Linked DNA regions of Homo sapiens: region 1 is linked to region 2. The links come from fine-mapping of genetic effects on gene expression. Tissue or cell type: whole blood. Region 2 holds a variant in brackets; the other region holds the start of a gene. All regions are shown on one strand. Distances are between the middles of the regions.

What was found. PIP is the estimated chance that this variant, and not a neighbour inherited with it, causes the effect.
Region 1: TMEM245 starts here. The variant in region 2 is fine-mapped to the expression of TMEM245 in whole blood (TOPMed, PIP above 0.99).

Annotation. Positions count from the first base shown.
Region 1 is chr9:109,118,841-109,121,494 of GRCh38, forward strand. TMEM245 (transmembrane protein 245) reads right to left here and starts at 1,107. Exons shown (of 18, transcript NM_032012.4): 1 at 495-1,107. The coding sequence starts at 1,073. RefSeq lists silencers at 437-546, 897-1,066, 1,207-1,256 and an enhancer at 737-786.
Region 2 is chr9:109,018,896-109,021,741 of GRCh38, forward strand. TMEM245 (transmembrane protein 245) reads right to left here. Exons shown (of 18, transcript NM_032012.4): 18 at 1-1,610. The coding sequence ends at 1,565. Among named protein-coding and RNA genes, the nearest start is that of CTNNAL1, 6.8 kb to the left of the region's middle. The variant T/G (reference allele first, on the strand shown) is at 1,356.

The DNA.
Region 1 (2,654 bases), 100 kb after region 2:
CCAAACCCCTCTTTGTCCCTAAGTAGCCCTAGCCTGGTAAGAGGTCACCTTTCCTATCTGCAGGATGGCAAGTTGGCCTAGAATCTCTAAGGTCCCTTCCAGCTCTGACATTCAGATGCGCAGAACTGAGGGTGGCCGAAGCACCCCCGCCCTCTCCAACCAGAAGTAAAACCAAGCCCCACTGCCATGCTCTGAGGCCTCTCTCTGCAAAGCGAAATAACGATTCTCAATCCAGGGCACTGTCCCCCTAAGAGGGCCTATTAGGATTGAAACAAGGCGAAAAGCAGGGAGGCTGTTTCAAATCACGCCCGCCCCCTTTTTGGAAGAATGTCCGCCAAATTCCTGAGGTGTGAGAAGGAAAGCGGAGACGGACGGTCACTGCAGCACAGGTGTGGCCCCTCGTCGCCCCTGCACCGGGAGGAACAGCTGCAGGATTGCACCCCAGAGCGCCGGGACCACGGGCGGGGGACGGGGGCGGACTGCCGCTCACTCACCCACAGGCTGCTGAAGTAGTCCAGCCCGCGGCAGATGAGCGTGGCAGCGTGCACCAGCAGCACCTGCACGCCCAAGTAGCTGCCGAGGCAGTAGAGGCCGTACAGGAGCGGGCCGCCGGCGCCGAGCAGCAGGAGCAGGCGGCGGCGGCGCAGCGCCTGCTCGCCCAGGGCCTCGACGCCGTAGTCGACGAAGCAGAGCGGCAGGAGCAGCGCGGCCAGGACGATGGGCGTGTGCGCGCGGTGCAGGCGCTGCAGCCAGTGGCGGCCCAGGCGCGTCAGCGAGCTCTTGAAGGGGTGCAGAAAAGTGCCGCATAGCACGGCCCAGAGCAGCGGCCGCAGGAAGGCCTCCAGGATGAAGTAGACCAGCACCGCGGCGCCGCAGCACAGGCACACGAACAGCACGGCCCCGGTGTTGTAGAAGGCCTGCTTAATGGGCTTGTCGAAGCGCAGCGCCAGCGCCGCGGTCCGCGGGGTCTCCCCGCCACCGCCACTCGGCCCGACCGCGCGCGGGACCCGCGGCGCCGGCCCGGGAGAGCTCCGCAGGCTTGGCGCGTCCTTAGGGCCGCCGCCGTCGGCCATCGTTCCTCCGCCACAGCCGCCCCCGAGGGGCGGTAATGGGAGTCGGGCTAGAAACGCGGGCGGGAGGCAGGGCGGGAGGCGCGCGAGATTGTGGGAGTTGTAGTTCCCCGCTGGTTTACAGACCCACCAAGCGCTTGCAGGAAACTACAACTCCCGAAGGGGAAATGGGGAAAACGCCTCCGCCTCCTTGGTGTCCGCAAGGTCCTGCTAACAAGTTTGCAGGGTCTATATCTTCCTGGAGGGGGGGGGGGGGGGAAGCTCCTTTCACTCATTCGTTAATGTCAATTTCTCGCGAGGCGAGATCCCAAAAGGCGCCACATTCAGATATTAAAACCCAAGCTGCATACTAGAATACCGTGGGGGAGTACTTTTAAAGAACCAATGCCCCGATTCTGTTTTACTGATTTATTTAACAGATATTTTTAAAGTGTTTTCTTTGGTGTATCTGACAGGATTTTAAATAGAGATTACCATATAACAGGCCCTATTCTAAGTGGCTCACTCCTATTAACTCATTTAATCCTTAGAACAACCCTACAAAGAAGGTGTTATTATCCTCATTTTACCAACAGAAAAACTGAGACAGAGCCGTTAAGTACGCAGCCAGAGTCACACAGCTACCAAGTGGCACAGGCAAGATTCAAACTCAGGGATTCTGGCTCCAAAGGCTATACTTTTATCTACCATAGTATTTGGCCTGAGGAAAGAACTCTTGGCATTTTTCAAACGTTCCTCATAAGCCTGTAATTTGCAGCCGCTGTTGACAACTGTTTGTGCAGGTTTCGCTGTGGACGCAATCTAAACTCTTAAAAGAGTCGTAGATCAAAGTCTCAAACTGCCACTGTTTCTTTTTGAGACTTGATGTAATGTCAGTTAAGCCCCCAATCTCAAGTTTTCCTCTGTCACATGGCGATGATAATAATAATAGCTTTTGCTTTAGGGTTATTGTGTGGGGGAAGGGAAACTCTGGGGCGGTACAAGGTGCTTCTGTTCCCCTATTGGAAAAGTGCTGGGATCCAAGCCTGCTACCCATAAAATATCCCAATCAACATTTTGATTTAAAAAAAAAAAGAAAGCCTTGACTGAGTACTCAACATGTGATTGCTTCAAACCTTGCAAGTTGTCCCTTTCCTGTTTCAATAGTATTCCTATTAATTTCTACATAATTTTTGTTTCCCTTCTAAAGCAGACAAGACAGGTAACATAATCCACAGTTTGCAGATAAAGAAACTATTGCTTGATAGATTTGGAGACAAAGGGATTTAGTAAAGGAAGTAAAGGAAAAAGTAATTCCCTATCCATCTCGATTGTAAGTTTTAGGTCTCAGTATTTCAGATGGCCTTTGGAGTTTTATAACCAAAACGCAGGTTTAGTCGCTCACCACTTGCAGATTCCAATTAACAAGAGCAAGGTCTGGTATAAAGAAAGTGATGTATTCCAAAGCTAGCTTAGGGGAAGAAGTACAGGTTTCCTCCCTAAGGCTACTGCTTCAATTGTGGAGCAGAAAGCAGGCACTTTTAAAGCGAAGGAAGCAAGCAGTTGTCGGGGGAGGGGTCTGCATGCCTTATCTACTGGGTGGTC
Region 2 (2,846 bases):
GCTAATTTTTTTTTTTTTTTTTTTTTTTTTGTAGAGATGGGGTTTTGCCATGTTGCCTAGGCTGATCTCAAATCCCTGGGCTCAAGCAATCCACCCACCTCAGCCTTCCAAAGTGCTGGGATTACAGATGTGAGCCACCACCTACAGCCTGGCCAAGAACCCTTTTCTCTCCCACATTCCCCTGGGAGCAGAGGATAGGCCTGATGATTGTTTTAAACAGTAGAAAGGGTTCAGCTAAGAACTACAGTCCACTCTCAGCCCTGTCATGTACTATAGGACAAGTCTTCATTCACAACAAATGGATAGCAACACCAATCTCGTAACACTGGGAAAACTGCATACAATATTTAGAAGGAACACTAATACAGCAGAATCTGCACACAACGGAGTCAAAGATCTGAGGCCAAATCCTACTACACTTTACGACTTTGAGTTGGTCACTTTTCTGAACCTTAGCTTCTCCATCAGTGTAAAACTGATGTAAAATAATATAAAGCTATATGAAAGCTGATGTGATGTACTTGTGAAATAGTATGTGCAAAAGGACTTTGTAAAATGTAAAGCACTATGCTGGTTATTGTGATATCTGAGATATTTTTAAAGTTGCAATTCAATTCAACAAGCATTCATTTAGAGTCATGTGCAAGGCACTGTGCTAAGAGATGGGAAAATACTACATAAATACAAAATTCTGCTGAAAACTAACTTATTGGCAGAGTTCCAAATAATGAAACGGATACATTTAACAAATCAGAGTATTGCTACACCTGAGATTTTTCACTTCAACCACCTGGAAGGAGAAAACCTAATAACAGCATGAATTTTATCATACTGTTACCATTCATAGCAGCTTAATAAGTATTTCACTTCAACGTGGTCAGCCAAGTTTTATAATTTGGCAATAGTGTAAAGAAGCGTGAAGAGAAAAGGAAGAGGAGGAAGAGCTTCAGTCTTTGTATCTCCCAGGGTTATAATATAAAACTGAACATCAAATAAGCCACCCCACCCTTATACTTATGATTTATTATTTCTTAAAGAGCGTATAATACATTGTGGGAGAAGGGTAGAAGATTCATTTTTCCTGCTCACTCAACTACACACTCAAAAGTGAAAGCCCTCTTCCTTGAAAAGTGACTGTCTTAGAAAAGTTTAACAATACATTTCTTAAACCAGGAAAAAATTACACCATCTATTCTTTTAACAGCAGGTAGTTTAGAGTTCTTAAAATAACTTTATAAATATATAATATAGTAACATAGATAACCAAAGTGGAAAAATTTCAAGCCAGGGTACCAGTGTATAAAATGAAACTTTTCAAGCCATCTTAACAACAGTTAAGTGAGCAAACCACCAAC[T/G]CTGAACTCTCAAGCTGTGTTTTAAAATACAAAGCAGCCCGCAGCAAGTTCTCTCTTGTCCAGGCATTCTGTATGTAAGGCCAGGAGGCTTCTGCTTCTTTCCTGGGTTTTGCTTGCTAGGCACAGCTGGAAGGGCAGAGGGCCACAGCTGAGCTGAACTCGCTGTCAAATTTGAACTTCCTAGAAAAATCACTGCAGAGGAAACCACATCAACCTACTGAAGATTTCAGATCTTCAGAAATGTCACGGAAAGTCCTAAAAGAAAAAAAGACGGAATGATTAGTTGATTACCATAAAACAGTATCCTATTTTTACAATCTTTTGGAGCCCTAATGAGATTATATAGTCACTATTTTTTCTTAAGATTTTCATTGAGTATTGTTTCAAAGTCTGCTAGTTGTTGCTCATTCTCATTAACAAGAACTCCATCTTTTTGCTGGATCTATCCAAAGGACTGTTTCCCCAGACTCCCCTGAAACTACACATGACCACGTGACTACGCTTTGGTTAATGAGATTTAAGTAGAAGTGTTGTGCAACTTCTGGGCAGTTCCTTAAAAGAGAAGAGCAATCTTCTTCAGCTCTTCCACCTTGTTACTGGCTGGAAGTGGATATGATGATTGATGTTAAAGAGGAAAAACCACTAAGAGACCAAAGATTAAATGCTAAGTGGATACATTTTATTACAAAATAGAAATCGTAATCCAACAGAGAGTCCAAGCTCTAAGGGATGTGGTTCAGTGCAGGAAAAATGGGTTAGGTCTTTTCATCAAGTGACCTTGTACTTGAACTGTTTCTGACCCACATTAAACAAGCTAAGCGAACAATGTTATTGGCGGGTAATATCTGGGCTGGATGAAGGTGGCTGAGCACCGTGCCTGACTGCTGCATACATGAAGTGTCTATCTCAGTACTGTAGTAGCTAGCTTGCTTTTGCTACATAATTTACATGTCTGAGCTGAGATAAATCACCTGGCTAAATTTACATCTGTGCTGGCAGCCAAATGGCCAGGTCAGAATTTATCAATGAACATGAGCTCAAGCACCCATATTAGACAAAAATGCCTCACACCAAGGCTGGCAGTACATCAGGATGGAGAGAGGCTGGGACCAGATGTTTATGCAACAGTGATACAGATATAAAGCACAGTCTATTACCATTCTTTTAGATAGAAGTTATATTGCTCCTTTACAATAAGTCCACATATTAGAAATACAGAAAAATATTTGACTTTACAGTTGGTTTTTTGTTTGTTTGTTTGTTTTGTTTTGTTTTGTTTTTTGAGACAAGGTCTCACTCTGTTGCCCAGGCTGGAGTATACTGGTGCTATCTCAGCTCACTGCAACCTCTGCCTCCCAGGCTCAAGCCATCCTCCCACCTCAGCCTCCTGAGTAGCTGGGACTACAGGGAACATGACACCACATCCGGCTAATTTTTATACTTTTGGGAGGCTAAGGTGGGAGGATCACCTGAGCCCAAGAGGTTGAGGCT